4 separate regions of the Homo sapiens genome follow, and regions 1, 3 and 4 are each linked to region 2. The links come from fine-mapping of genetic effects on gene expression. A gene starts in region 2. Each other region holds a variant in brackets. All regions are shown on one strand. Distances are between the middles of the regions.

Region 1 (8,107 bases), 150 kb before region 2:
CCCCAAACATTTTTTTCTTTTAATTTTTTGTTAGTCCCAGGCTTATTTCTCTCTTTTTATTTTTCCAGGACTCTGTGCATCAATTTAATGTTACAAAGTCGCTTTCTTTCTCTGTAGATGCCACTTCAGAGACAGATTCTCTGGGGTGTTTTTTGGTAAATCATCTCGTTACATTATGGTTCCAATACACGTGTTCACACAGAAGTGCCTTCAGTCTGAGAATGTTAAGTGCTCAGGGTGTGATAGCAGTTGAAGGGACCTCAGTGAGACAGGGCTCTTTCTTGTGAGAGGAGGACTCAGGTCTCTGTCCTACTGACTCAGCCTCTCAGATACAGGGTTTGCTCTGAGATTTCCTGCTCAGCTACCATTAGTTATTTGGTATGCTTAGTGCTCTACACACAATATTTTTCTTTTCTTTCTAATTTTTTTATTTCAACAGGCTTTTGGGGAACAGGTGGTGTTTGATTACATGAATAAGTTCTTTAGAGGTGATTTCTGAGATTTTGGTGCACCCATCGCTTGAGCAACGTACATTGTACCCAATGTGTAGTCTTTTATCCCTCACTCCGTCCCACCATTTCCCCAAGTCCTCCAAAGTCCATCGTATCATTCTTATACCTTTGCATCCTCAAAGTGTAGCTCCCACTTATAAGTGAGAACACATGATGTTTGGTTTTCCATTTCTGAGTTACTTCATTTAGAATAATAGTCTCCAATTCCATCAAGGTTGCTGCAAATGCCATTATTTCATTCCGTTTCATGACTGAGTAGTATTCCATGGTATATACATTTATATACCACATTTTCTTTATCCACTCTTTGATTGATGGGCATTTGGGCTGGTTCCGTATTTTTGCAATTGCGAATTGTGCTGCTATAAACATGCATCTCTACACCTTATGATTACGATAGTGATTATTCCCAGTTTACAGATTAGAAAACTGAGGTTCAAAGAGTTTAAACTATTGTCTATAAAGAGCTGCAATTTATTTTGACTCCAAAGTTCACATTCTTTTCTTTATACTTTTTCTTCCTTTGTGTTTTATTTGTCTGATATTAAGAGAGCAAAAAGATTCTAGATATCTCAATGACTAAAAATATTGGAGACACCAGAATCAGCATCTACAGGGTTGCCATTAAAGTCACAGGATGGGGGAGGGATGAAGATGGCTGACTAGACACAGGTATTATGTGCTCAGCATCACTAATTATCAGAGAAATGCAAATCAAAACCACAATAAGATACCATCTCACACCAGTCAGAATGGCTATTATTAAAACGTCTAAAAACAACAGATGTTGGCAAGGATACGGAGAAAGGGGAACGCTTATATACTGTTAGTGGGAAAGTAAATTAGTACAACTTTTATGAAAAACAGTATGGATAGTCCTCAAAGAACTAAAAATAGTACTAACTGCCCTTCAATTCAGCAACTTCACTACTGGCTATCTACCCAAAGGAAAAGAAATCATTATATCAAAAAGATACCTGCACTCGCATATTTATTGCAGTTCTATTTACAATAGCAAAGGTATGGAATCAACCTAAATGTCCATCAATAGAAGACTGGATAAAGAACGTGTGGTATGTATACATCATGGAATACTACTCAGCCATTAAAAACAAAGAATGAAATTATGTCTTTCGCAGCAACATGGATGGAACTGAAGCCATTATCTTCAAGGAAATAACACAGAAACAGAAAGCCAAATACTGCATGTTCTCACTTATAAGCGGGAGCTAAACAATAAGTATACATGGATATGCAGAGTGGAATAATAGACGTTCGAGACTCCAAGAGGTGGGGCGGTAGGAGGAGGGTGAGGGTTGAAAAATGACCTATTGGATACAATCTTCACTATTCAGGGGATGAACACACTAAAAGGCCAGGCTTCATGACACAATATATGCATCAAAGAAACCTGCACTTGTACCCCTAAAATATATTTAAAAAATAAAAAAAAGCCACAGTATGGAGCCTGGAGCCTGAAGCTTGAAAGTGGTGAGTCAGCCTAAAGAGTGTGAGAATCGGGAGTTCCAGATCCTAATTCCATCACTCCCGCTAAGCTCGACATTGTTATTTCGACCGCTGGGCAAGCTCCCTGAGCCTCCATTTTTGCCTCCCTGGACCTCCATTTCCTCACCTTTATAATTGAGAGTTTAGAGGAGGTCCTCTATGAAGTTCTATCCTGTGCTAAGATTCCCATGGCACACCTATTGGGACACGTTCTTTCTCAGAACATTTCTGCCACCCGGAATCTCATGAAGCAATGAGACTCAATTCCCCATAACGACAACAATCAGCATTCCCACTTCTCCAAAGCATATGGTACTATGGATGCCTGCCAGGGAGTTCTGTGAACGGAAGTGAGGCATGAATGAACATCACCAGCCAACATGTTAGGTTTGTCCTTCTTGCTGTTCTTATTACTGAGTATCTACACTGGGTTTGGGAGACGGTCCCTTTTACTGATTATTTCAAGAACATGGTCTCTGTCTTCGTGGAGTTAATTACTTCAGTTCCTCCCTTTACTTCATGACCCATCAGTTGCTCGGCCTGCTTTTTGGCATTTTCTATATCTCAGGACCTCTCTGTATTTAGTATACTAATGAAAAAAATTAAGGCTTCAAATAGAGAAAAAAATAAGTTCTGGTGTCTCATGATGCCCTTGTTAGTTAGAGAAGGGTCAAGTGAAGACCTATTTCATATGTGCAAGATAATTGTCAAGTGAAGTGAGGAGGAAAGGATAAGAAGACATTTTTATTTTGATTTTAATTGGCTTCTCTGTTCTTTCTCAGTTCCCTCCAACCCCGACCCAATTTCACCTTTCATCATAAAGCTCAAGGCCTTGTTGGAATGGGGGAGGGGAAGCGGTGGGTAAGGGGAAAGAAGAATATGGCATATTAAATCTATTCCATGAACTATGTCATTTCATACATAATTCATCAGAATCCTAATATTCAAGACTGAAGCCAGACTTCCATTTTTAAAAACCCAGAGTTTTGTTTGTTTGTTTATTTCTGTCAGTTTTTCTTTTTTGCCATTTGTAAGGTTGTGATTAATTTTATTTTTGTCTCTTGGTCACAAAACCCTGTGCCCCTCAAAAATTGCTCTATTGCCAGGCAGTGAGTACCCTAGGCTGGAGGGAAGCCAAGCACCGCTACCACCAGCCAGGCTGGCAGGAGTGCAGGAATGTGGCTTGGGGAGTCCACCTCCTGCTTTCTCTGTCCTTTCTGCCCCAGGAGGGAAAGGGCTGAGGAGAGGAAAGGTGGGGGCCCATTGCAGAGTTTGCCAAAGCTTCACAAGGACTTAGAGTACAAGTGTGTCCAGAAGAAATTTCTTTCCGAGGGGAGAAGAGTAAAGTAGGTGGGAAAATGTTGATCTGTGATGACAACCTGTAGAGGTGTGAAGAAGTTTTTATTAATGATGCAAGTTGCAGACAGTCCTGCCAGCTACAAACAAGGTTCAGCAAGGGCTGTTGTCATAATAGCCACTGTAGGGGGCTGACAGTTCAGGAAAGGAGCATACACCGGCTCAGGGGCTTATGCTCAGTCACATGAGACTACAGCACTTGCAGTAGTTACGTTGGGAGTGGGTGGTGATTTGATCCACATCAAGTAATCAGGCTCTTGTATAATGGTGGGGGAGGAGCACAGGTAGCATATTTCCATTTCTATAGTA[A/G]TGAATGACTGTGAAATATGCACCAGCTTATAGACCGATAAAACAAACTGTGTGAGGTCTATGTGGTGACCCTCAGAGAACTGTGGCTGCATGTCCATGATCTCCAAATACGCTGAACTGAAAAAAAGAAAAATCAAAGAAACTGGTCACTTTGCCCCAGTGGGTTAAAAATTGGTCTGGTTTCTTTTTAGTTACTTAACTGATGTTGGATCACTGAATTAATGAATCTGGTCTCTGTTCTCTTTTGGTCTGACTTGGATGTAAATGTTTGGATGAGAATTCTGGGATGTATCAATTCTAGACAGTTGTTTGTATTGGGGAAGCTGAGAAATATAAAGACAGAAAAATGAAAAAGAAATAGAGATGACCAGAAGTGGGCCAAGGTAAGAATCAATGAAGGACAGTAGCAGGAAGTACCAGGACAAAATCAAAATTGTATCAAAGAGAATTTTGAAGATTCATTACTTCTAAAAAGCAACTTACACCACAGTCGCAGGTGTCTTATAAAAATATTTTGAATTTCTTATGACTTACACAGAATATTTAATAAATGCACACTTTAATATTACCATGCACCATTTTAATTTGAAACAGGTTTGTGGAGGTTTAATAGGATATTCACTTTGAGTGGGTGGGGTGGACAAATGTGATAAAAAGAACGATTTACCTGAGATCTGAGAAAGACCCGTGGGAAAGGTACTTTACTGGGTAGGATTAATCATCCTCTAAAATTTCAAGTTCATTTACATATATTTCTGAGAGACACTGAGCCACATTCTTTCCTCAGAAGCACCATTTGTTCAGTTTGCTGACACCAGATGCTATAAGGCTATTGTTGTGACGGTTCTTAAACCCATTCTGTTTGGGTAGAACATCCTTTGAAAGTTTCTTATACCTGCTTTTCTCGTGTACAATGAGGAAAATTCATTTCCTTCCTGTTGAGCAAAGTTAACGATTATGTTCCATTATATTAAAATATTATCCATTGTTATGACTTCAGTTTATTGTTCCTGCTGAAATCGCCATGTGTTGCAGAGTCAGCAATGCCAAGACCCAGGCACTCGTGTGTCAGTTCAGAGTTTCTCTTTAAAAATAGTTTTTTTCAGATGAGTTATGACAAAAAAATGGCAAATCACAATTTCAGGGGAATTAATAGGTAATTACATACTTAAAAATCATTTTTAGCTTGAAAATCCAAATTTTTAACAATGTTGTATCCAGAACATAATTATAACTGCCACATTGAATCTCTGAACCAGAAATAAGAGCCTTCCTTTAAGATATAATAAATACTTTAAGTATTAGGACAATGTTTCTCTTTCAAGAGGGATGAAAAGTAGAATTATAGGCTACCACTATATTCTAATTCCATGAATGGTTCACTTTTTAAAACTTTTTTTTATCCTTTTCAAGGGTTCATTATTTGTGTCCAAAGAAGACAAGGAAAGATCAGGACGTGGACTGAAAAACCAGAGTAGGCTCAGAAGATTCAAAAGCTCGAATCAGGAGGTGGTGTTTTTCCTGGTATTTTGGCAGATGTAACAGCACCAGAACCAGAATGCGGGCAATGTGAAGGAGATTGTAGCAGGAGCAAAGAAAGGAAGGGAGAAAAGAAGATGGAATCCTCTTCTTTTTGTGAGTTTCTTTTTGGGAGAAGAGAGAATAGCCTGGAATTCATTCAGGCAGCTCCACTGAGGCAAATCCATTATCAGTTCAATTCCCTTCAGAACTAGTTCACAAGGGCTGCCATAAAAAAAATACCATAGACCGGTGGCTTAATCAACAGGAATGCATTTTTTTCACAGTTCTGGAGGCTGGGAGTCCAAGACCAAGGCGCCGGCAGGGTTGGTTTTGTTTCCTCTGCTGAGGCCTCTTTCTTTGGCTGGCAGACGGCCATCCTCTTGCTCCCTCTTCATACAGTCATCCCTCTGTGTACACGTGCCCTGGCATCTCTCCTCCTTAAAAGGACACCAGTCGTATTGGATTAGGGTCCATCTTAATAGCCTCGGTTTAACTTAATCACCTTTCTGAAGACCCTGTACTCAAATACAGTCACATGAATTAGCCCCCAGCCATGTGACCTCATTTTATCTTAATTACCTCTTTAAAGACAGTATCTCCAAATATAGTCACATTCTGAGGTGTTAGGGGTTGAGACTGCAACATACGGATTTTGGAGGGACAAGTTCATCCCACAACACCTTCCAAATTTTTTTTTAACTTGAAAACAGGTGATGTATCTGTGGTAGACAGATGATGACCGTCTCCTAAGCCTTAGATATAAGGAAGAGTAAAAGGAGGTGAAAGTTAGCTCCCTTGGGATATTCAAGGCACTGAAAACTGTGAGGGCCCAATTTTATTTTGTTTGAACTGTTTTTTAAATTTGTTAGTGAAAATTCCAGATATGCACAAAGTAGACAGAATAGTACAGTAAGCCCCCTTATGTTCATCCACCAGATTCAACAATTGTTGTGGCTTTGATCCTCTTGCTGAATCCATTTTCTCTCTCTTTTTTTTCTCTCTCTCTCTTGCCGAAGTGTTTTAAAGCTAATCTTGGGTATTGTGTCATCTTACCCTGCATCTCTTAAATAAAGGTATTTAAGTATGCATCTTTTAAAATATAAACACTCTCTTACATAACCATGATGCCATCATCATGCCTATCAAAGTTGACAATAATTTCTTGCTTGTTTTATTCCCAATTCAAATTTCCCTCCTCTCAAAAAAAAATATATATGTATATATACGTATATAGTTGATAATGTGAAACAAGATCCAAACAAGATTATTATTACATTTAGTTGTTAGTAGACTATTTATTTTGGGGAAAAAACATTGTTTCATTGCAGAGAGTGCATCATTTAGAACATCCTATAGGGTTATTTACTTTTACTTGGAAATTGCCCTAAATACCAGAAACAAACTCTCTATCCGATGGAGTGGGCCTGGATGGAATTGCTTCTCCCATAATGCCTTGGATGCTGTCTGTTTACCTGGATAGTGGTCAGCCTAACTAAACAGGAAATTATACTTGCTTTCTGTTTAAATAATATCTTGGTTTCTATAAGTAGTCATTATATTTGATTCTATAAGATTTCATTATACTTTAGATAACATTTCTCATGGAAAACACAGAAGCAGCAGACATCTTTAGATATTCTGGTTGCTTCAAGGTTATCCACATATTACCTGGAATTCAGCTGCCTCCCACCCCGACCTTTGGGATAACAAGATAAACTTGATTCACAGCCAGTTCCATCACCCGTTAATGTCCAAAGTTCTTGCTGTGGTTTCTGCAACTGTCCAGGGCCAATATCCCTATGGGGTCCTCCTCTCTGATGCTTGCAATCATGTATGCTACCTCTATTTCATCTACAGCAGCCAGACACTAACCTTAGCTCCTTCAGGGGGTTCCACAAACCTCCATTCACACCCAGCATTTTGTGAGCTTTGTCACTTTATTTAAGAATGGGAGGGCAGGACCATGTAGAGTGGCTCACCTCACACAGAGTACACGATTTTACCACTTGCTGGTCTCTCTCTTGCCGCCTCCCACCGCCATTTCCCCTCACTCTCTTTCTTTCCTCTCCCTTTTAAGAGTGTGACAAATTCCTCTCCTTACCTCATGCAGAGCAGTTTAATAATAACTTTTTAAACTTGAATATACTCTTGGGTTTCACCCTCCACCCCAAATGACTTGCTGAAGTATTTCTTTATCCAGATATATTCAGGGCTCTCTTTCAGAGGAATTCTGGTTAATGCAATTTTCTCTACCTCATTTTAAGTATGTAACAGTCAGCCCCTATTTCTGCTCCAGCCCCCAGATTCATCCTACACATACAGAAGAGTGTGCTGGGGGCATCTCCCCGAATTCCTTCATGTAACAGAGCAGGGACCAGGAATGCTACTTATCTGGTGCAGCCACAGCTGCCCAGAAAACAGCAACAGGGTTGTGCAAAGTGATGCCACCCACACTAGAAGACTCTTAAATTTTGTTGAAATACAACACTACCTGGGTGCAAAAGCTTAGCAATTTTCCCATATGCAACTCTTATCGCCCACAGGGCAAACCTATGGCTAAAGTCAGACTATTTAAACCTGCCTCTTCCTGACACCCAAATTTCCTCAACTTGCAGACAGTATTCCTGCAGCCAAGGAATTCTCCCTTGCCACAGAGAAAAAAAAAATCCCTGAATATTTTCATTTCATCCAATTCAGCAGATCACAAAGGATAAATAGGCACACTCTCTTTGAACTTGGCTTCAGGAGTGTGTCCATCAATCCAAGCAATCCAGGCTGCCAGAGACTGCAGAATCCATCAACCTAGGACCCAATTCCAGCCTGGTATCTTGAATCTGCTTACAATTCTTTTTTTCCCCACTTGAGAAGAGGTGATCAGTGTTTTCTGTTGTTGTTGTTTTAGT
Region 2 (8,107 bases):
GGGACAAAGAAAGAATTTCAAACGCATCCCTTGTGCTTAGAATTGCACTGGGAAGAAGAGACACTCAAATGTAGGAAGCCAAGTGACAACGCAGGCAGCAGGATAAGGTGAGGGCTGTATGGCTGGACAAACCCAGTGGCCCCTAAACCCTAGGATGCCTTAGAATCCTTGGGGTGTGGAGCCGTTAAAAATGCACAGTCCTTGGCTCTACCTAGGAGATCAGATTCACTAGGTCTCCAGTGAGTCCCAGAAATCTGCATTTTAAATAAGCTTTTAAACTATTCGAATACACGTGGTCCACAGACCACCTTTGATGAACACTAGTCCAGTCAGCAGTACTCTGTAGATGTCCAGAGGGAAAGGAAGCCCACTGGGCAGGCCCAGGAAGAGAGCTATTTTTGTGTTTAGACATGAAAAAGCTTACAAGGAATCCTTTTCTTTCCTCTGCTGCACAATTGAGTGTTTTGAAGGAGAGCCAATACCTTGCCATTATCTGGAGAATGTGCAATCGGCACAAGGAATAAAAAGGGACGCATACAGCTGAGTCTAGAGCTGATGAAACCAGTTTATCTGAATCTGATTCCAGGGCATTTTGATGCTGAAAGGTGGTGTTATGACTCACTGAAGCTTTCACATCTATTGTTTTTCTTTTCCTGGGTGGCTTTGCCAAAGACCTTATAGATATCATTATTTTCAGATTACTGTTATTACACACATTCTTCTTGAATAAAATGCTACCTTATTTTTATCTCCATAGAGCAAAATCAAGTTTCGGTTGTTTTCTTATCTTCATATGTAAAACAGTCCCAGCGGTTAAGTCTCAGATGGGAAGAAAAATTAACTAAAGCCTTGAGCAGAGATGTCCAGACTGAAGGCTGACTTAACGGTTTCCCCATGACCAAGTGGACAGGGTGGCACACCCAATTCCCTGGACACATGCCAGAAACTGGGCTTAACCTGCATCATGAGCAAATAAAGTTTCATTTAAAGAAAAGAGTTTCTGCAATTTAGCAAAAATGAGTGACTGACGAGTAACACTATCCAGAAACTGACAGATTGTCAAACCCGCCTGCTACCCCTGGGTCATTTCAGCCATGGAATTTCTGGCCCAGTGAGAGCAAAGTCATTGCTTTCTCCCTTGACAGATTTCTCTGTGGAGAGTTCAGAACAGAAGAGAGAAATATCTGCAAGCTTTCTGAAAGCCATGGGGAAGCTGTGGGATGTTGTGTCCGGTGCCTGCGTCGGGCTCCATCTCTCTCCACAGCAGCTCTCATATGTATTTATGAAACCGTATGAGGCTCCCTGGTGGGTGGCACTTTATGGGTGAATTACTAGCTAAAATTCAAAGGGGTTTTGATGGCAAATAGTATTTTATTCAATTCATAAGCTTCTTCTCCTAATTCAGCATCTAGCCTTAAAAATAGACCTTTAGCAGAGGTTGAGCAAACACCTGCCTGTTTTGCTTTGGCCCAGAACCTGGGCTTGTCTCAGACCAGCTGGTTCCATATGGGCCTCTGTAATACGGTGGCCTGCAAAATACAGGATTCCCAGTTAAACTTGAATTTCATTACAAAGAACAAATCATTTGCAATATAAGTATGTCCCTGCAGTGTTGGGGATAGACATGTACTAAAAAATTTACTCTTTGCTTTTTGGAAATTCAAATTTAACTGAGCATCTTGTGGTTTTATTTGCTAAATCAGGCAGGCCTACTCTGTCCCAGTGTATAAGCATCACACCGCCCTTGGTTCTTATCCAACATCCAGACCTATACTGGGGCTTCTCAGAATGGGATTCCCATGAATTTGGGATGCCCTGAGAGGTAGCGTTAGTAGTGAAAAAGGGGACCCTGCAAGGTGGAGGCCTCAAAGCCAGTTATTTCTGCTGCCGCCCTACCCAAGGAGAGTGTAGATGGAAGTAAATATCTAAATGCCCTCATTAGGGTGGGGCTGTTCCAACACAGGAATTACGACACACGGCCAGACTCAGAGGCTGCCCTCTGTTCTGTGGCAAAAGGGTCCCAAAGTACAGCCCACTGCTTAGCCTGACTGCCCTTCCTAAGTACTTCTTAAAGACTGCGTGTCCCAACCGGGCTCAAGCCTGTAATCCCAGCACTTTGGGAGGCCGAGGAGGGCTGATCTCGAGGTCAGGAGATCAAGACCATCCTGGCTAACATGGTGAAACCCTGTCTCTACTACAAATACAAAAAAATTAGCCGGGCATGGTGGCGGGCGCCTGTAGTCCCAGCTACTCGGGAGGCTGAGGCAGGAGAATAGCGTGAACCCGGGAGGCGGAGCTTGCAGTGAGCAGAGATCGCGCCACTGCACTCCAGGCTGGGCGACAGAGCGAGACTCCGTCTCAAAAAAAAAAAAAAAAAAAAAAAGACTGTGTGTCCCACTTTATCTGAGGGGCCAATCTGCTCAAGACATTTTTGAGCTGCCAGTCCCGAACTGCGTGCTTAAGCCCCAAGAGCTAGCAGGTATCCGCAGAGCCCCTGCACAGGGCTGCTGGGAGTTTCCATTGGCCACGCCTTCTGACCTCAGTTCTGCACTCCCATGCTCATTAGCTCCCTGCATTCTTGGATGCTCTTGAATATTCCCCTGCTCACCCTTCTTCTCTTGCCTGGTACAACCTTGGTAGCCTGACCCCAGAACTGGGCTGCTTGCCCTGGGCACCAGTTGGCTTTGTTCCCAGGCATTACTGCTGGGATTCGCTCTGGACTCTGAAATATGCCTCCTCAGCCAGCCCGACTGCCCAGATCCCACCAGCCTGCTCTGTCCAGAGAGATGAGACATTCGGACTATTCAGTGTCCGTTCATGCCATCTGCTGGGATCATGATTTCTATACTCTGGTCACACATTACATGAATAATACTTCCCCCATTTCCTCAAAAAGATCCTCAGACAAGCTCAACCCCCATGTGCTAGTAGTTCAGGATTCTATGACCATCCTAAGTTTACACAACCACTTGGCCTTGGCTGGCCAAGACATGATGGTGTGGGAGCCTAGGAAGACCCTTCAGAGACGGCAGCAACCAGACTCCTCTTCTCACAGTCCCCCTCCAGCTCTGGTCTGTCCTCCTCACACAACCTCCCCCTCACAGTTTTGGGGTCTCATCTTTGGACCCTCTCTTGCCCCATTTTCCAAACACATCATCCCTGGCTGTATTAGGGGTCTCTGGGGCAGCCGCACTATGCTTTGATAGAGGGATGAGGTAAAGTTATTTTCCACTTTATTAACCTGAAAAAGCATAAACCGACCAAGTTTAGGGGCCTGAAGCATATTCTAAACAGACAGTGTCTCCTCCCTGACCCAGTTCTCTTACGGAATCATGGGAACCCATCTCCTCGACTTAGCAGCGGCAGACAGGCTGGTGTTTCTTGGCATTGTTTTCTAGGGCTGAAGCTGCAGTTTTCCTGATTTGGCCCTTGCATATTATTTAATTGTTTATCTTGACATACAGGTTTATCCCAGAAGGGGATGTTTAAAAAGTGGCATGGAGACCCTGGCTATAGACAGAAATGCAGCTTAACTTACCTTGGCTTCCTTCCTGCCAGACTCCTCCCAATTATTCTGCAGGCTTCTTTGCCCTGAGGGCAGTTTGCAGCTCCAGGGACTGGAATTGGCTTAAAAAAAAAATTCCTTCCTCTCTGTGCCCCATGTGAGGGAGCATTGTGTTCTCTCTAAATAATCAGCCTGGCTTTGTGTGACCTAACTGGACAGGGCCCTTTGAGAGATTTTTCAGTTGCAGAAAGAGCAGTCAGTGGCATCCTACAAAATCAGAAAGTTTTCAGACCAAGGAGAGAAGTCAGTGACAGCAAGATATTTTTTTCTTTAAGTTGTATTGTGACTAATTCCTCTCTCCCACTGGTGTTTAGAGTAATTAGGTAAAAGTGCAACAGAAGAATCCAAATTTATATTTTAGATCTAATAAATAATAACATTTAATCAGATGATCCCCATCCATTAACACCAAAATAACAAACAATTCAATGAATTATTTTAGGGTACTTACTATGTGCAAGGCATTGTCAAGGTAATTATTTCTTGCATTTACTGATTTCCTCCTGGGGACGCAGCACTAGCAAGAAGCTAATGGATTAGAAAGAAGTAGAAGGCCTCCAGCTGACAACCCACTCAGAAGAGAACATGGATCAGAATTGCCTGCCTCCATGGCAGGCACAGAGCTGGGAATTCATAAGCAGAAATTACTTCATTCAATCATCTCAATAGCCCTGTGGGGAAGACAGTAGTTCTCCATTTTACAGATGTGGAAACTGAGATCCAAAGACTATGTATATAGCAGGCAGAATGATGCCTCCCCTCCTTCAAAAATTCTGAAGGCTGTGAATAGGTTACCTCAAATGGCAAAAGGGGCTTTGAAGAGGTGATGAAAGGTTTTGCAGTGGGGATGTTACTATCGACTTTCTGAGTGGGCCCAGTGTAATTGCCATGGTCTTTAATAAGGGGGTAGATAGGAAGATAAGAGTGAGAATGACAGGGATGTGACAATGGAAACAGAAATTGGAGTGATGTCGGGTCATGAGTCAAGGAATGCATGCACCCTCTAGAAGCTGGAAAAGGCAAGAAAACAGATTCCTCCCCCTCCACCCCAAGCCTCCTGAAGACGCCCTGCCCTGATAACCCACTGTGAACTTCTGGCCTCCAAAACTGTAAGATATCTTGGTCCATTTTCTGCTGCTGTAACAGAATACCACAGGCTAGGTAACTTATAAATAACAGAAGTTTATTTGTCTTATGGATCTGGAGGCTGGGAAGTGCAAGATCAAGGGGCTGCATCTGGTGAGGGCCTTCTTGCTGTGTCATAACATGCAGAAGGCATTACCTGACAAGAGAGCATGCGAGAGAGAGAGAGGAAGGGAACCAGAACTTCATTCTTCTATGTGGAGCCCACTCCTTTGATAACTAACACACTCCTGTGATTAACAGCCTTGATCCATTCATGAGGGCAGAGCCCTCATGACCTAATCACCTCCTGTAAGACCATGTTTCAACATTGTTACAATGGCAACTAAATTTCAACCTAAGTTTTGGAGGGGATATTAAACTATAGCAGTTATACATTTGTGTTATTTTAAGCCACTGAGTTTGTAGTCATTTGTTGGAACAGCAATAGAAACTAATACAGTATGCCCCATTTGCATTCCACAATGGATTTGAGGTGGTCATAGACAGTTGCTCCAGAGTGGTAGAACCAGTCAGGACTGCATGCTATCTAACTGGCCCCTGGAGTTCTGCAAGGCAGGGGCCCTAGAGCAGGATTCAAGTGAAGTCAATGTGCCCTTAAAGTCTATGTCGTTTCTTTTTTTCTGATCTGCTTCCTCAAGATAAAATTTAGGAGCAAAATGAGTGAAATACCAGAAGAGAAATATTCTGTAACATGACATGTTTAATGAATGAGTAAAGAGTTCAGGAAATGAGTGAGTTCTGAAAATGAGTTACTGGTGCATGCTAAAGTGATCCGGGAAGACTTGATAGAGGCAATATAGTATAACCTGGGCCCTGCAGCATGGACAGATTGGAAGTAGCATTAGAGGCAAACAGGAGGCCTTGCAGCTGAGGGAATGACCTGATAGAAGAAATGCCCCTGGGAACAGAAAGGATAAACCAACCTTCCTAACCTGTATCCCCACCTCCTACCCTCACCCTATTCTCTGCCTGTGGATTCCATTAAATCTTCCAACCAAAGCCTTGGCAAAGGCTTTGAATAACATCCTGTGGTCTTCCTTACTTTACAAATGCTAAGTCTTGACCCAAAGAGATATATTTCGTCTTTCTCGCCCACAGTTACCAAACAGATCAAGTCTCCCAGGTCACTGCTCCCTAGTCATTAGGAACAAAGCGTTTTTAGTTTTTCAAAGTCAACAAGCATACTCTTTGTCTCTGTAGTGGCCAGTTTGATTCAGCATGTCCAAATGAGGAAAATTTGGATTAGAATTCCAGACTTTAACCCTGGCCAGGAAATTTTGTCAAATACAAGGACAGTGACTTGAGAGATACACTCTTAAACCATCTTTAATTTATAATTAAGTAAATTGTAAGAGGGGCAGCATCTGACTAAAAATGGCTCTAAAGCAGAAGATTCAGCCTCTCTATTCCTGTGTTCTGCTGTCACCTGCAACATAACATTGAGCACACTCTGTTACATCTTCTGTGAAATGAGAAATTGGACTTAAAATTCTCTCCATCGCTTCAGATGCTTTGGGCCATGAGGCAACAGAAACCCTGATTCAAAGTGGTTTAAACATTTAAGGAAACGTCCTATCCTGTATAACAGAAAGTAGAGCAGCAGGGAAGCTTAGGGGTTGACTGATTGGGTGGCTCAACAACGTCATCAAGAACCTGGGTTCTTTCTATCTTTCTCTCTCTCTCGCCATACCTGGGTATCAGCTTCATCCTCGTGCTGGTAGTGAGACTGCTGTTGCATCTCCAGGCATCACATTCAGACACAAAGAATCCGGAAGAAAAGGAGGAAGACTCCCCAGAAGATGTCCCTTCACATAGTATTGGCCATTATTGAGTCACATGTGCCAATATCTGAATAAATCACCAGAAAGGAGACCCTCAAGAGGTGATGTTTCAGCCTCTCCTGGGAGTACAAAAGCGGAAGAAAACAGAACAAAATCACAATTCTGTGTGGAAGGAAAATTGGGAGAATTGCTGCTAGACAGAAAATGTATAGTGACCTCTATTCTCTCAAAGGTATTTCCAGCTCTAAAAATTTCATATATTGAAAAGCATTTGTTGCCTAACATGGTTTAAACCCAGACCACCAATTCACATGCCTACATATAACCAAGCACTGTGCTATTCACCCAAGAAACAGCAGTGAGCAAGAGGCATGGAGCTTCATGCAGCGACCAGTCTAAGGGATCCTGACCACATGAAAACCATAACCACCAGTTGCATTGTAACACCTGATTTCCAACAGTGGCCCCGGGTGAGGCCTCATGGTATTGGTGATATAGATAAATGAGAGAAAATAGTTGCTGTTAATTTAAACAAGTTACATTTAAAACATTGACCAATCAACATCCCTGTCTACCCTCGGACAACCTAAAGAACTCTAGTGGTGTTACACAGTAAAAAGCGGGGTAGTAGGTGGTGTGTTACATTTTCTTAAAAGAAAATTCAAATTGGCTACTAGAGTTTTTGACCTCACATTGACCATGGGCAGACTGTGTCTTTTTAAACTCATTTCCAGAGTGCTTGAATGAGGAATGACATTTTTCCTCCTAGTGTAGACCTGGTCCCGAGTTATTTCCTATGGCTACAATGACTATTCTAAGGAATGGAGAAAATAGAGATGGATGGATGTTTGATGGGAAATTTTACACTTCTCGTGAGTCTTTTTTTTTGTGGGGTTCTGTATGTTTGCTCAATTGCAATTACCTGTGTCTTTCTTCTGTGGCTGGATTAGTAACTATTCAATTCATCCAAAGAATAGAACAGTGCCACTAAAATGAGTGTTCTTCTCCCAACAGGATACTTAGGTTTTGACTGAGTAATCAAACTCTGCAAGAAATTTCACCAACATATTTATTATACCAAGTGACAGGAACAGGAGATATGTTTTGTTATATAATATATTATAACTAACTAGAAGAGTAGACCACAAAAACTTCCTTAAACATGAAAGTCACACCTGCCCATGTTCCTACGTACATGCAGTGATAAATTTCTGTCCCCATTTCACAACCAGGTTTACCAGATGACCATGCGAATAAGAAGCATATAAAGCAATAAGTATACTTGAGTGAAAGAATAAAGCATTTTTAAAGTTCCAATTTTTCCACTGAATCATTGCTGCCAATTGTTGAACTATGGGTAGGGAGAGTGGTCTGTTCTTGTTATAAGGCTGGGATTTGCCATATAAAAGTGGGCCTAGACAGCACAGTGAAGCGAATTCTATAATTTCTGCAATTACAATTAAAATCTCTGTTCCCCCTCATCAAGCTTCTAAGCAGACCTACTCACAGATGTTACCCTGCCTCATTTGAGGTCCATTTCTATTTCCCACCCTCGGTGGAGCTGCTAATAAACAGTGAAATGGCCAAACCAAAGAGAGAAAAGAGAGAAGAACCA
Region 3 (8,107 bases), 39 kb before region 2:
GCCTATTGGATTGTTCATGCCATTTTGAGGTCAACCCCTGAATGCTGAACTTTGGTTTTCTAAGGCCCCTGTGCATTAAATAATCTATACAACAAGCAGGACTTTAAATCCAATCCTTTTCTTCCTAATAGGATGGGATTTTGTGCACATGTATATACTAATAGCTAAAAAATCAAACAGTTGTCACTGATCAAAACAACAATAATTTGTCCTGTGGGGAAAAAAAGAGTGTGAGAGAGAGAAAGAATAGAAAAGAAAGAAAGAAAAAGGAACTGTCCAGCCCTGGAGACTAGAGCTATTTTGATCGCACAAGAACATAATCAGAGTCAGGAACACAGTGGAGGAAATATTCCCAAAGGAAATCAAGATTAAGATGCACACTTCGGCCTCTTCCTACAAGCACCAACCTCCCAAGCCCACAGGTCATTTTGTTTGACAATGTCACATCGATTTACATTTCACAATGCACTTTTAACTTTAGAATGTTAATGTGCTGGCTGGAATTAGCTGTATCTTTAGAGAAGAGTCTGATCTTGACCATGTTCTCCTTTAGAGAGACTTCCTAGTTGGTTTGTTATTTTGGTAAATGAGAACCCAGGAAGAAATTAAATCAATTTTATAGATACGTGTGTGTGTGTGTGTGTGTGTGTGTGATGAAAGTGTCCCTGCAGGACAGACACTGGGAAACTGTGCTTTGAAGAGAACAAAGCCTTTCGGGAAAAGGGTTCCATGTTCAAAAGAAAATGAGGAAATATGACTTCTAGCCCAGATATTGCCAGGCCCACTTCCATCCTTGGTTTTGCTCCATGTTGGAGCTCAGGATTCTGGATGTATTTCCTCTGAGTGCCCTGTTGGTGGCGGAGGGCAGGGTGGGGTAGAGCAAGGCATAGCCTTCCATGCGGGGAATCTGTGCTGTCTCAGGGCTTTCCTCCAGAGGCAGTCCAGAGAGAGATATGCCAGCGTCATAAACCCTGCTTCCTCCTTCCTTCTGTGCCACCCATTTTCCTAGTCCCACTACTTCACAAGTAAATAACCATCTTCATTGGAAGTAACCTTCTTCCCTAGAGAGGTGAAGTGACTGGTCTATGGTCACACAGCTATTAAGAGCCTCTGACAGAAAGAAATCCAGCCTCTTCAGTTTCAGGTCATTGCATGTTCTTTCCTCCTACCTTGTAAGCAGCTTCAGTCTTTGATGTGGGCCCTGTGTCCTGGGCCACAGGACAGACTTAGGGCTCAAACCTCCCTGGGCCTCACCTGGCACTTCCCTGCCAAGGTTGCATCCTGCCTCTCTCTGAAGAGTCACCCTCTAGCCTAGTCATTGTGGAACCTACTCCTCAGTCCCAACATCACCACAAACACCCACTGTCCCTACAAGGGACAGGAGGGCTGAGATTTAGGGACCCAAGTTTAGATGCAAATTAGAATCTTTTTAATGTTATGAGAATGATGGTGAAAAATCCTGAGGACAAGAGTTATATTTAGTCTGCAAATATGTATTGAGAAGAATCCCCCAAAAAGTTACTATTAAAGAATAATGATAAAGATTCATGCACTTTAGTTGGGGGCAGAGTTTAGGGGTGGCATTATGAAAAGCTGTGGGAGTTTTGAAGCAGCCTTTACTCAAGAGATGGTTGTGTGCTGAGGGAGAGAAGATTTGGAGCTATTACTCACAATGCACCAGCAGAAGATTCCAAGTTGGAGAGCCTAGGCAGAGAAGTTCCATGGGGTGTGGGAAGGTGGGGGTATGGTAAGAGGCAGCATAAGAATGGCTGAGCTGAGGCTGGGCATGGTGGCTCATGCTTGTTATGCCCAGCACTTTAGGAGACCAAGGCAGGTAGATTGCTTGAGCTCAGAAGTTTGAGAACAGCCTAGGCAATATGATGAAACACCGTCTCTACAAAAAATACAAAAAAAAATAGCCAGATGTGGTGGTATGCACCTGTGGTGCCAGCTACTTGGGAGGCTGAGGTGGGAGGATCGCTTGAGCCTGGGAGGTCAAGGCTGCAGTGAGCTGAGATTGCACCACTGCACTCCAGCCTGGGCAACAGAGTGAGACCCTGTCAAAAAAAAGAAAAGAAAAGAAAAGAAAAGAATAGCTGGGCTGGACACACTTCACTACAGAGACAGTCATTCTCTCCAGAAGCCAGCATGAGGCAGAACCTGGCTGCCAGACAGGGGAGGTTCTTCCCCATCTAGAGACCAAAAGGTCAAGTGTAGAAACTCGGTTGGGTAGATGTGAAGGATGCTGTAGGCCAGCTGGCTCAGCCTCCATTCCTAACTTCCTCAGGGAACCAGTCTATACTGTAGACACCAGAAAATGAAAAACTAATTTTCTCTTCCTCCTTTGCAGGTAGGGTTCCTGATGGGATTGGGTTCCACCAATCAGAGCCACTTGCATGAGACCTCAACTGAGAGCCAGGTCAGTGGGATGGGAGGCACAGCACGAGGCCTTTACTTTGCTAGCTCAGATCATGGCAGAATGGTGGGCTCTGCCACGGACAGTGGGGGATGCAGTTTCCCTCAATCATATCAGAGCATCATCTGGGGAACTGGAATTGTTTCTGAAAGCTCAAACCAGAATCTGCTTGTTCAGCACTTCCAAAATGTTCATAGGCCAATTAATACCTGATTATTAATGCTCTCCTGTTTCAATAAACTGGAACAATTTCTGTCATCTGCATCACCATGGACAGTGGCCAAGATAACATATCTGACTCCCCAAACTGATCATTTTTTAGTACCCTCCTCTATGGGACAAAATTATTTTCAGTGAGAATCATGTAATAATCATTAATTATTATTACTCTCATGATTCATTCATTAGCTTTAAAACAATAATTTAAACAGAATAAATTTTAATTTTCAAGATATTATTCAAATCCAGTCAAATATCTCGTGTATGAACTAAAATTTGCATTTCCTAAACTTTAAACACAAATTAAAATTCCAAGTGGTTGTGCAGAATGACAGAATTAAATTAACTCAGGTTTTGTGTCTTGGCTTTGCAATTACTGTGCTATCATCCTTTATCGATTATTTAAATGCAGGCATACTTAGTACAACAGGGGCTGGAGACACAAACTGTGCCTGAAGCCAGTTCGAACCATCTTGAACTGTTCTTTCTTACTGGAAGTTCTCCTAAGTAACTTTCACATAGACTATAATATTAGTAAAAGGATAAGTAATTAACTATGCTAATTTGAAGCATATATATGTATGTGTGTATATATATGGGTATATATGTATACACACACACATACACACAGATGTATATGAGTGTATAGAATTAAAATTCAATAGTCACCACAGCAATTGTTTAGAAAATGGACAAACAAAAGATTTGTGGGAGGATTATTTTATCACTGACATTGTTTAGAATTACTGGCCTAGGGATAAGAAAAAGCAAACTGACTCACAGTCGATTTTATTATTGGTTTTAAATTATCTGCAGACAATGCAGCTGTGTGCATCTTGAGGGTGGGTGCACCCGCCCCTGGTTGGCAGGTGGGGCTGAGCCTGAAAAAGCCTGATCCCAAGCCTGAGGGCTCCAGAGGGTTGGGGACTTGAGGGGAAGTGGCATGGCGAGGGGGGATTCCCAGACCCCAGCACCCTCCCCACCAGATACCTCCTGCATACCAGGAGACCCAGCCTGAGCCGCTCATGACTCCCCAGATTCTCAAATACTGCTGAAACATAAAGATCCCCCACAAACTGCCTTTGGTGGTGAGGAACCAAGAGCCCAAAACTGCTGAAACCCTGGTACCCAGTTCTCAGTAGTGAAGAGACCCACCCACCCCATGTGATGGAAATGTGTGCCTCAGCACAATTAAACCTCGTCTCCTGCCACGGGCCCTTGAGGGCACACACAAGTTGTTGAATTTATGAATGTTAACTCTGCCAATGCCGAAATTCCACTTTAACCTATACCTGGAATGCCTTCGTTCGCTGGCAGGTGAGCTGCACCTCAGGTGTCTGCAGGGGACAGGGTGAGTGAAAGCCCCACAGAGCTCTCAGCCTGAGAAGGCCCTGAGCCAGGGCACTGCCTTTAATGAGAGAAGTTTCTCTTTTCCCCTCCAAGTGGTGGCCGCAC[C/T]GAGAGACATCTAAAGTTCTCTGAGAGCAGAGACGGAGTTTATTTCCGGTGTCCTTCGCGGTCCCCAGCAGTACAACTCTCATAAAAGGTTAACTTCCTAGTTCTGGGGAGAGTAAAGCTTGTCTTTTCTCCACTAGTTGAGGGACCTTTAGCATAAAGGTCCAGCCTCACAGAAGATGACTAAACACACAAGCCAATTTTAATGCTGTGTCCTGAGACCCCAAGGGAGTCCAGGGGAGACCATCTCCCTAGACAAAGGAAAGAGGCACCTCCCCACCCCAGGGGGGACACTGTGGACAAGATGCAGGTGCACAGTGCCAGATATCCAAGGACCCTTGGAAGGCTGTGACCTTTCTCCTCTGAGCAGTAGTAGTAAGCCAGATGTCCACTAGCAGGTCCCAGAGATGCGGCCACAGCAGTAAAGCTGCATGACAGTCTACTTGCCTGGCACTGCCCAGGAGAGTGCCACTAGCCCCCATCCTGTAGGACCAGTGGGTGCTGTCCTCCTCTACGCAGAGTGGCCAGGGAGGAGGGGCAGGGCCATCTAGCCATGTGGTTCATGCCTAGGTGTCTGGGAGCAGGAAGACATGCATTTCCAATCTAGCATTGGCACCCAAACTCACATTGCTGTATTCCTGTCAAGCAGTGTTAGCCAGCCTCATATCTAAGGACTACAGGCTTTAATTACTCCAGGGAACAGCCTGGTGGCCAGACAAAGAAAGGCTTGTTACAAAGGCCCCTTTGTTGAAAGGGCTTTTGTCCCAGCAAGAGGATTGCTCCAGGCACCCCTTATAGGCCACCAGCCCAGAGCAGGGAAGTAATACTTGTCCAACTAACCCTCGGGTGTTTCAGAAGACCTGGACTCAAGTCCCCGCAGCCCAGGTTTGCTGGCAACATAGTCCGCTGTAAGTCACACATCCTTTTTAAGCCCCAGTTTTCTTACCTATCAAAAAGCAATCATCAATGTGAATTTCACCCTCTTTTCTCCAGTCCTGGAGGCTGAGTCCCCCAGGCTGCTGGAGGTGCTGAGAATACCTGGACCCTACTAGCAATGCAGAGAAGTGTTTACACCCCTCTCTGGCAGGTGATGTTCGATGTGTCTTTAACCGTGTCCCTACCCTCTGTCATCCCACACACAACAAACACATATATAAGAAGAAAAGGAACGTGTTTGTAGTGGATATTTCTCCTCTTTCCTACTGAGGGTCCAAGCAGCCTCCCTAAGTTGAGGTGAGGGGCAGCAGCCACTTCCTCTCTGGAGAGCCAGGAAGGACACCTCCTCTCACTCCCTGGAAACAGAACAGCAGGCTGCTGACCTTCACCCGGCCACCAGTGCTCCACCCTGAACTCAAGATTCCAGGATGCAAGACGGAGGCTTCAGGAGGAGAGAGATTTCTCCTTGGAAAGCTGGAAGAGCTGAAAGGAGAGTAGGAGGTAGTGAGGAGGGGCCTGCAGCAGGTCTCAGGGACTCTACAGGGCGTGGACCTGTGCTGTACTTTTGCCCCCTGACCCTCGTTCCTGATGCTTTTCTGAGCTTGGTTCTCCAGCCTTCTGATAATTCCATAGGCTGCTGGATAGATAGCCTTCCAACAAATTCCCTTTCTGCCTAAGTTAACCAGATTTGGGGTCTGTTGTTTGTAACCAAGAGTCCTACCTGATACTGTGTAAGATATAGCCAGAGAGGAAATTACCCCAAAAATCTATTTTTTAAAATCTGCCTGCACAAATATACTAACCACAGCATTATTTAAAACTGTGCAGATGGAAACCACTGGACAGTAGTGACATGGTTAAGTGGAGTCTGAGCCATTCACTCGGAAAAACAAGCAATCATCAGAATAATGGGTATGAAGACAATGCAATGACAAGGGAAGTGCTGCTGAGATTGACTGACAAATGACAACAGGAAAAGAAACTGAATGCAAGATGTGCCCCTCTTCCCCTACCAAGAATAGAAGCTCCTAGGAGCTAGACTTTTGATCTATTTTGTTCAGGGTCCTATCTCCAGCAAGTGGCAATGGTAGGCACTCAACTGACACTTAGAGAATGAATGAATGAATGAACTATTTGCACAGGGGAGGGGTGGGTAAAAACACCTTCAAATGCTATTAGTGATTATTACAGGTTACTCAGATTTTTTAAAGCTGTTGTTCCCTTTCCTCTATTTCTAGCATTTTCCATCATGTGGTTTTATTCATTTTCCTGAGAAGAAAAAAATGTTTTCTTAGCCCAAACCACTGGTAGGTGACCCAACTTCCCTAATATTTATGTTCCCTCTTGAGAGGCCTAAGCTGCAACTAAGCAGGGTGGCAAGGGCAAAGGAACATTTGCTCTCCTTTCCAAGTAGAAATGCTCAGCTGAAGCAGTCATTAAGGAGCCTGGCTCTGCTGCCCAAGGAAACACTTCCTTCCCATGGGCGGCGAGCGCCGAGTGACCTTCACAGCCCCTGGGCTGGATCTTGGAGCAGGAGAGTCTGTCTGGGGCAATAAAGCATCGCCAGGTGTCCAGGCCAAGTCAAAGGCCTTCCTGCCCTCCCCTGTTCCCCTCCGGTTGTCATCTCTTGCTTCCTCACCCGGGCTTTGTCACCAGTCCATGCACACTGCAGGGTCTGAACAATGGCAGACTCAATAGCCAGAGGGAGTTCAAAGGGGTTGATCGCCCCTTCAGATTGGCATTCAGCAGAAGCAGCCACTAGCTTAGCAAGTGGGATCCTGTTCCACCTCAGAGTGACTAAGCAGGGAAGTGGAGGAGTCAGCACTCCACAGAAGCCAGGAGGTTGGCTTCAGGCTGGCCATGAATTCTCACAGCAGGAAAGGGCAAAAGGAGATCAACCAGCCAGATGAGCTATGAGGAAATGAAATCTGCTGCAGATCGCTGGGCAGGGCCAGCTGTACACACCTGCTAAGATTACCATTTTATGACCACCACTGGCTTGCACTCACTATGATATTCTCTCTCTCTCTCTCTCTCTCTCTCACACACACACACACACACACACACGCAAGCATTTTCAGCATGAAAGAATGAGAATAAAATCATGCAAAGGAAAATGCCGAACACAGAGAAAAGACACACGTAAATGTACACACTTGCAAAGGCTCTGATTCACTAACTTCATGCCCCTTTTTTACCTGCCCATATCAAAACATGCTTCATCCTGGTTGGATCCAACAAAAGACCACAAGCCCCAGGTTCCAAGGCACATCCTGCAGGCATTTTTTTCCATTTTATCCATAGTGCTGCAGTGTTTAGTGGGTTGCTTACAGTTCAGGACCACCTGGGAGGAAGCCCCACTCTACATTCTGGGTCCCAGCTCTGCCAAGTCTCTTCTCCAAATTCCAAGGGTACAAAACCAGTTGGGCAGTGTCCCCTCTTAAGAGCTCTGAGTCCCAGCTCTATGTGATCCCTCCTCAAGCTGCTGAGAGTCCGCATCAGCCTGGGAACACCCTCCACCAGAGACCTGTGTTCCAGCTTTGCTGGGCCCTTCCCCTAAGCATCTAGGTTCTATTAACCCCAGTCTCTTGCTTTGTTTCCTCAGCCCTTGGGGTGGTAGCTGCTCCCTGCAGTTACCGTCACTGAGATGCCTCAAGGTTCCTTTTTTGCCTTTTCAGTCCTAATACTAGCCTAATAATCCCCTTTATTAAATTATCTCTGTTAAAATAACTATGGTGATCAACTCCTTACTTAAATAATGTTTACATGATCAAAAGACTTTCTGTAGTAGTATTAACAGTTTTGGTTTCCTTGGTTATTTTAACTTTATTCAATTTAAATTCATTGAATTTTTTCCAATTATGCTTTCATTTTACAGTCATTAAAAAACAAAAAAAAAAAAAACTGGCCAGGCATGGTGGCTAACACCTGTAATCCTAGCACTTTGGGAGGCCAAGGCGGGTGGATCACTTGAGGTCAGGAGTTTGAAACCAGCCTGGCCAACATGGTGAAACCCTTTCTCTACTAAAAATCCAAAAATTTAGCTGGGCGTGGTGGTGGCTGCCTGTAATCCCAGCTACTTGG
Region 4 (8,107 bases), 42 kb after region 2:
ACTGAGCAGCCCCAAGAAGTGGAGCTGGGGTTTGAGAAATAGGGCATTTCAGCTTCCCCAACCTCCCAAGTTTTAATGAAATCCCAAGAGCAGTTTTTAGGACTCCAAAGTCTTGCCCACACACACTGCATCTGCACCGTGAAACTCTCACTGGACCTCCAGAAGCTGGCACAACTATTCCTCTGCCTCCCATACCACTTGGCAGCTCTTCCTACCCACCGGGCAGTCTGAAATCCTCTGTCCAAAAAGCATGCCAATCTCATTTCCATCTCCAAGTCTCACAAATTGTCCCACTTGCTTTCCCATCCCTCTCATATGCTCAGCTCATCCCTCACTTCCTACAGGAAGCTCTGCAGGACTGTTCCTCTGAGCTTCCTGTTCACAGCCCTCAGCACTCGGTACTGTTCACTAAAGTTAGTCTCATTTCCACAGCCCCAAATTGTAAGTTTGTCTGAGGGCAGGGGTTTGAAAACTAGCCAATGTGTGTGAACAGCTTTACAAGCTTGATTTCATTTAAATCTTTACAACCCTTGTGAGGTAGGCAACTTGCATTATCCCCATTTTACAAACGAGGAAACGAGAAGGCTCAGGAAACATAAATAACATGCCCAAGATCACAGAGTTAGTTAGTGGCAGAATCGAGAAATGATGCCGTTCTGATTCTCGCATCTAGTCTTGTGAACACTACGAGATGTTGCTTCTTAGAGCAATGTTTGTTAACTGATCGATTGACTAAACCAGAGGTTCTCAAAATGTGGCTCCCAACCAGCAGCATCCACAGCATCTAGAAACTTGCTAGAAATGGACATTCCTGGGTCCCACCCCAGACTTACTGAATCAGAAACCCCAGGGCTGGGGCCCAGCAATCTGTGTTTCTAAGAGCCTTTCAGCGTTCTCTGGTGTGTGTTGTTGGTGTTTGAGGCTACCTGACTAGACCAGGGATTAAATTGTAGACTTGCAAGCCAAGAAGTAAAATTGAAGCTATAATTTAGGTACTTACCTGACAAGATAGAAAACCAATTCTCACAAAATTTTATTGATGAAATTCAAAATATGATAATAATCATTGAGTATGATTTTTTTATAATACAGGTCTAATAATGAGAAACATGAAATTCATTTGTGGGGATAACATTTTGCTTATTTGGGGTTCAAAGTTAGTGTTCCCTATGACCAAATAATTGCAAATGTTCATGTGTAAAAAAATCTTTCTTAGCTCCCTGTACAAAGCAGGCAGCAGACCAGATTTGGGCTGCAGGCTGTTGTAAGTGACCCCTGCACTAAACCATCCCAGCTGAATCAGTAACATTTGGTACACTTGGGTCAATTCTTGTCTAAAGAAGGCAGTCACTATAAACAACCAGTTTGGTGATTCTACACCTCCAATCCCACTCTCCCCAGCCCTGAGAACAGTTGCTGAAGTGAATTGACAGGTTTGACCAGGCATTTTGGCATCCTAAGCAAGGCTGTGATAAGTCAAGCAGTCCTTGCCTTACATAGCTCCCCGATAGGGAGAACAACTGTCTAGCCAGGTGGCTGAGCAGCTGCAGGAAGCCCTCAGCCCTGCTCCCGCCACCACCTGTGGCTTTCATCCCTTCCTTATCTGTCCCCTCCTGCACTTCCCTAGGGCCACCCCCACAGAGCTTGCCTCTCCCTGCTTGCCCAAGGAAGGTGGGTGTCTGGAGAGGACAGAAATTGACCTCCCCTCCATTTTTGTCCTTGGCCTGGCTTTTTCAGCACCTGTCTGAACTCGCAGCTGGATGGGAGATTATAGAGAGCTGACACATAGAAATAACAAGAAGCTTTAAAACTTTTCTGGTTCCTTAAAAAGATGGGTGGACATAATAGTTGGCTGATGCCCTTGGATTAAATTATGTCCCCTGAAACAATATGTTCAAGTCCTAACCCCTAGAACCTGTGAATGTGGCCTTCTTTAGAAACAGTCTTTACAGATGTCATCAAGTTAAGATGAGGTCATACTATATTAAAGTGAATCCTAATCCAGTGACTGGTGTCCTTATAAGAAGAAGGAAATTTGGACATAGAAACACAGCAGGAAACAGAGAGAACACCATAGGAAGACAGAAACAGATATTACAGTGATGTTTCTACAAGTCAAGGAACCAAAGATTGTCAGGCACTGTCAGAAGCTAAGAGAGCAGCATGGAACAGATTCTCCCTCAGAGCTTCTGGAAGGAACCAAGCCTGCCTACACCTTGATTTTGGACTTCCAGCCTCCAGGACAGTGGGAATAAATTTCTGTGGCTTTAAGCTACCCAGTCTGTGGTGCTTTGTTACAGCAGCCCTAGGGAGCTAATACAACTGATAATAAAGAAATGGTAAAATACAATGAGAGACGTCAGAATCATGAACAAGAAAAAATCATTATGCTTTCAAAAATCCTTAGCATATGAGACTTTGCTTCTGATAAAAAGTTAAGCAAAAAAAGCAGATTTCAAAATCAATTCTGCAATTTTAAAACTTGCATTTTTACAACATTGGTGCAAACCAAAGATTAGATGAAAATGTAACATACTCGTTGCAGTATTTATCTCTGGGTAGGGAACCAAAGTTAACATGGATTCTTATAATTAGAAAAAAATGATAATTAAAAAAACAATTAAATAAAAGTAATAATCCATGTTTACCTTGGACAAGAAAAACAAAAACTGTGAAAGCAAAAGGCAGTTGTCTAGAATCTGAGCAGTTGTGAAGTGGGTCTCAGATAAGCCTGAAGACTAGATTGCTGAAGGGGCAGCTGGAAGCTATTAGGAGAGCAGCTAAAATAAAATCAGATGCCAAGACTGCTTCTCAGCCTGCGCTGCACTTCAGAATCATCTGGAGAGTTTTGTTTTTAGTTTTTTTGTTTTTTAACAAACCAATGTCCAGGTTTCACCCCAGGCCACCTGAATAAACCAGGGGAGTCCAGTTAGGATTGTATGAAATTTAAATAACATTTTAATTACTCTTTGCTTTGAGAAAATCCTGTATGAGAAAACCTGAGTTTAGCCAGATCAGTGAGGGAAGATGACAGTATTCATAATAGGTAGCATTTCTGGACATTTTCTACATGCTGAGATTATTCCATATTATTTACATGGTTTATCTCCCTTAAACATCAAAATAATGTTATTATCATAGTTACCATGATTATATCCACTTTAGAAATTAAATAACTGAGACTCAGAAATGTTAACTATCATGGCCAGGATCACATAATAGGTAAGTGGTACACAGGAAGTCAAATTCCTCACTAACACACTATATTCCATCTTTAAATCTTGGAACATGATTATCCCAAGCTGCAAGTTTGGTAAAGAAGGTTGTTAGCTGCTCAAATCCGGGTCAGTATCTAAAGCCCTACTTTCCCCTGAGATTTTCACAGCATGGCCAGCATATGTCAAAGCACCTTCTTTTGTGTACCCAATTGATTTAAAAACTCAAAGTCCATTATGCACCTGGGAGAGCTTCATGCTGTCAGAACTGAAGGTGGTAGACTTCTATCCTTAAAGATCTTTGCTAAACTGTACACAATTCACTTTTTATGGTGAATAACCAGATAACTTTCTCTATGGTCTCAGGACCAGAGACTGTGAGACTTCTCCTGAGAACCTTCTTCTCATTCATCATATGGACCTAAAACTCGATATTATCACCTCACCGCTGGCTTCCACTTCTCTTTTCTACCTGCATTTCTCCACTGTCTTAATTTCTTCATCCATTTATTACTGATTCTATTTTGCCTTTTTTGCATTGTATCTGGTTTTATATGTCACTTAAATCAGTGACCTTGAAATTGCCTGCACTTCAAAATCATCTGAGGAGCTTTTAAAAATCCTGATGTCCAAATGACACCACAGACCAAGGGCATCAGGACCTTGGAGTTAGACCACACATCGATTCTTTAAAGTTCCTCAGCAGGTGATGAGCAGCTAAATATTTCAAAATTCTTCCTGGAAAAATATGGAGAAATAAATAAATAACAATATAGCCCTAAACCATCTCAAGTTTCAAACAGCTAACTTACAGTCATTATACTCACAGATCATATTTTTAAAAATGCTTTCTCTGCCTCTTGACCCTGAAGCTTTTGTGTTGCCATGAAGGGCCACAGAATTTTGCTGCTTCTGTTGATTCCCTTTAGGTCTCCTCCTCTGCTGTCCTTCAAGCCAAGCAGCCTGCTTCCTGCC[A/G]TTCAGAAACCTCCTACCACTCCCCCCATATTTAGGGACCCCCCTCCCCACCATTTTCCAACATCTGTGCCTCAATCAGGAACTTAAAGAGAAACCCAAAACCACAGCAAACCATCCTTCTGTAATTTGCTGAGCTGCCAGCCTAAAAAAGAGACTAAATATTCCCTTTTTGCTTAAATGGGAGCAACAAATGCTGTTGTTTAAATGAACTGTGAAACAAACCAAAGTTGTGGTTTTGTTTTCCAGAAACAGTTTAGTAAACTAGTTTAATGCAGAAGTAAAGACAATATACTTATAAAACTACATAATTCCAAAAGAAAAAAAAATCCTCAAAGGGAAACTTACGCTCCATTCACTTAGAATCAGATACACACATACATGAATAAAATGGGGAGAGGGAGGGGGCAGAGCTAGCCCAAGTATAAGAATGGCTAATCATTGAAAAGCATAACAGACGAGTCCTGAAAACAGAAGCATAAATGTTATCTGCATAGTTGGGGTGACAGCTCAGTGCATAACTTTTCATAAATATGAAGCTGCCATCTACCTTCATGGGAAACCTTGCCATCCTTCATGCCCTTGGCCTTCTCTCCTGTTCCGTTCTGTCACATTCTCCTCCAGAAGTAAAGCTTAAGCCCAACTCACTGTGGACCATTCATCATATAGAAAGTACTTGTTGGTCATCAACTCTGCCCAGCTCTGCTCTGGAAGCCATGAAGGAGCCAAATAAAGTAAAATTTACTCATGCGAACAGCAGGTGTTAATGAGTATCTACTATGTCGCGGCTCAGGCTGGGAGCCAGAGATGCAGAGATGAAGAGGCGTGTAGACAGAGTCTCCATCCTCCAGGGCTCAGTTTCCTTGGGGAGCACACCTGGCATAGCTAAAAGTCAAAGACTGTGTTAAGTCCTTTAGCAAAATTGACTGAGTGTCTTCTAGTTGCCAAGCCTGCTCTCAGTTCTGAGACAGACAGTCTGTGCCCTCAGGGAGTCTCCAGGCCAGTGCAAAGCCAGGCTGACAGCCCCTGTGAAGTCAGTGGTAAAGGCACACCTGGGAAGTTAGAGAAGGCAGACCCAGCTTTCTCCAACCTTGTCCTTGTCCTTTCACCCGCATGTTCTGTTCTGGTTCCTTATGCCTTTCATCAGTTCTTCAAACACCCAGGCTACACTCAGGGCCTCTGCCCTGCCATTTCTCTCTCTAGATAACTGTCCCCCGATCCTTATGGGTGTGACTTTTTCCTTCTCATCTGTCATGTCTTGGCCCAAATGTGTTAATCAGATCATCCTCAACGACCTATCAAAGGAGAGCCACTTTCATTATTTTCTGTATATATTGCTTGTTGGTTTCTTTCTTCATATTGCCACAGTTTTAATGTATTTTATGTATTTGTCTCTTTACTTGGATTTTTGTCTGTCTCCTCTCTTGAAATACATGCTCCATAGAACCATGTACACCTTGACTCCTGTATCTCAGCACCTAGTATAGCACCTGACACATATTTGTTAACTGAATGAATGAATAAGGTGATATAAATCTGAATACCAATACTCATAGTTTCAAACATTTAAACAGTGCCTGTGCCAGGTTCTGGATGCATTATAATTATTAACTCATTTAATAATACTTAAGCTAAATCTTGAAAGACAAATACAGGTTGCCAGGTGGAGAAGGTAGGTAAGGGTGTTCCAGGCAGAGAGAACAGCACATTCAAAGGCCTGGAGGTGTGAATACACCCAGCACAGTCAGGAGCTGAGAGTAGGTGGGTATAGAAGGATGGTGGAGCAGGGCAGTAAAAGTGGTCAGAGACAAGCTGAACACAGAAGAGGCAATGAGACGTTTTGGGAGGCAAAGACGTGATTTTGTGCTGAAGGCAAAATAGAATCACTGGGGGAAAGATTTGGAGAGTCCCTTGTAATTTTACAGCAACCAGTGCTGATGGTTCACCTGCCAGCCCAGGGGCCTTGGTTTTCTCCTTGTGCTTTATAGGAACATTTCTCCACCCCAGGCTCCACTTCCAGCAAAGATGCACATGGTGACTATTGTGATACTGAACTTTATGTGTCAACTTGACTGGGCCACAGTGTGTCCAGACATTTGGCCAAGCACAGTTCTAGGTGTGTCTATGAGGGTGCTTCTGCATAAGACTAACATTTGAATCTGCAGACTGAGTAAAGCAGAGTGTCCTCCCCAACGTGGGGAATTGGGGGGCACTCCACCAATCAGTTGAGTGCCTGAATAGAACAAAAAGGCTGACTCTCCTCTGAGTAAGGGAGAATTGTTCCTGCCTTCAGACTGAAATGGAAACATTGGCTCTCCTGGTTTTCAGGGCCTCCAACTTGGTTTGGAACTACACCATCAGCTCTCCCAGGTCTCTAGCCTGCTAACTTACCCTACAGATATTGGGGCTTGCCATTAATAATCATTTGAGCCAATTCCTTAGAATAAATCTTTTTCTGTGTGTACATCCTGTTGGTTGTTTCTCTGGAGAACACTGACTCATTCAGCCATTCCTCAAATCTTAACTTTAGAGTGATGGGACAAAGCGGGAGGGAGACCACTCAAGGGGCTCAGAGGAAGAAGAAAGGAGCAACATGGGAGTGATGAGACAACAGTGGAGAAGGCAGAACCAAGCAGCCAGAGGCCACCTCTGCCTCACCCCTGGGCCACTCATGGGCCCCAAAGCCTGCACTCAGTGGATGAATGCAATCCTAAAGGCATCAGGGGAAGGCTCAGCCAAGCATTGCCCAAGAGATTCAAGATGGCAGCCCCTGTCCTGTATCATCAATGAGTTGGCATCTGGCCATTGATAAGAGGGGACTTCTGGCCATTGACCACGGCACCAACATGAAGTGCCCCCTGACAGTTTTTCAGCAACACCCTGTAGATGCCCATCCTCTACACCCCAACCCCTTCCAAGGACAAGGTTCCCAGCAAGAAGGAGTTTCCCAGCATCCTTCACCATTTTCTTCTGTTCTGTCCCTCACTCTACTGTCTCAAGCATGTGGGACTGTGGCTGGCAATGGAGTATCCCAGAAGGCATGGAGATAGAACGGGTGCTACTTAAAGGGGCAATTGGGGTCAAAGCCTCTCAGGGTCTGAGGAGGGGCTGCCCCTCTTTTTTCATTTGAGACCTAGAATGGCAGACCTTCTGGTATGGATTAAGTATGCTGTTTGTCTTGAGTAGGGCCATGGGAGATAATTACAGCCAAACAAGATAGCCAGGAGAGGGACCTGGCTAAGATAAGAGGGACCTGGTATAAGAATACTGTGTTTTGAGTCAGCAAACCTATGTTCCAATTCAATTCAGTTCTGGCACTTGCTCACTAGATTGCTTCAAGCAAGTTAATTTGGTATAAAATATGTCAAATAGGGCTCATAATACCTACTGTGTTAAAGATGGCCCCCAATTCACTACTCTTCTTGCAGTTTATTTCTTCCACTAAAATCTCAGCCAGGCTTTGTGACTTGCTTGACTGACAGAATGCCAAGGAGATGACACTCACTATCAGCCATGGATAGATCATACGTCATCTCAAACTTCCACCCCTGTCTCTTGAAACTCACTCTCTCATGCCCCCTCTCAGGACCCAGTTGCCATGTGCTGAGAAGCCCAAGCCACATGGGGAGGCCACCTGCAGACATTCTGGGCCATCAGCCCCGTTGAACTTCCAGCCAACGGTCAGCTACCAGCCCTGCTGAGCAGCCCCACAGCACATGCCAGGCATGCGCATGTGCATTAAATTGGGGGAAGTTTGCAATAAAATCACTGGAACACCTCACCTGTAAATCAAGTGACTCCCATGTGAAATTCATCATTAAGATTATAGAAAAGCACCTTGTAAACCATAAAGTGCTCCACAAATGTGAAGGGTCATCATTAATATCACGAGTTCCTGCACTTCCCTTCCCATCCTGTCC

Alleles and levels. Positions count from the first base shown, and alleles are read on the strand shown. Sizes are in standard deviations (SD) of each study's normalised expression. Not every link is listed here.
For the expression in substantia nigra of the gene that starts at base 3,604 in region 2, G is the high allele of the variant in region 1 and A is the other (small effect, 0.24 SD a copy in GTEx).

The links.
Region 1: its variant is fine-mapped to the expression of LINC03122 in substantia nigra (GTEx, PIP 0.97).
Region 3: its variant is fine-mapped to the expression of LINC03122 in hypothalamus (GTEx, PIP 0.94).
Region 4: its variant is fine-mapped to the expression of LINC03122 in blood mononuclear cells (TOPMed, PIP above 0.99).

The regions. Positions count from the first base shown.
Region 1 is chr5:61,778,774-61,786,880 of GRCh38, reverse strand. It overlaps LOC105378995 (a long non-coding RNA gene), which reads left to right and starts at 2,155. Exons shown (of 5, transcript XR_948369.1): 1 at 2,155-2,405; 2 at 5,097-5,318. The variant A/G (reference allele first, on the strand shown) is at 3,684.
Region 2 is chr5:61,633,278-61,641,384 of GRCh38, reverse strand. LINC03122 (long intergenic non-protein coding RNA 3122) reads right to left here and starts at 3,604. Exons shown (of 2, transcript NR_126525.1): 1 at 3,539-3,604.
Region 3 is chr5:61,671,935-61,680,041 of GRCh38, reverse strand. All of the region lies in intron 1 of LINC03122 (long intergenic non-protein coding RNA 3122), which reads right to left. It overlaps LINC03152 (long intergenic non-protein coding RNA 3152), which reads left to right. Exons shown (of 8, transcript NR_109910.1): 6 at 2,351-2,419. Among named protein-coding and RNA genes, the nearest start is that of LINC03152, 22 kb to the left of the region's middle. RefSeq lists an enhancer at 6,581-7,081. The variant C/T (reference allele first, on the strand shown) is at 4,091.
Region 4 is chr5:61,591,772-61,599,878 of GRCh38, reverse strand. No RefSeq gene overlaps it. Among named protein-coding and RNA genes, the nearest start is that of LINC03122, 42 kb to the left of the region's middle. The variant A/G (reference allele first, on the strand shown) is at 4,191.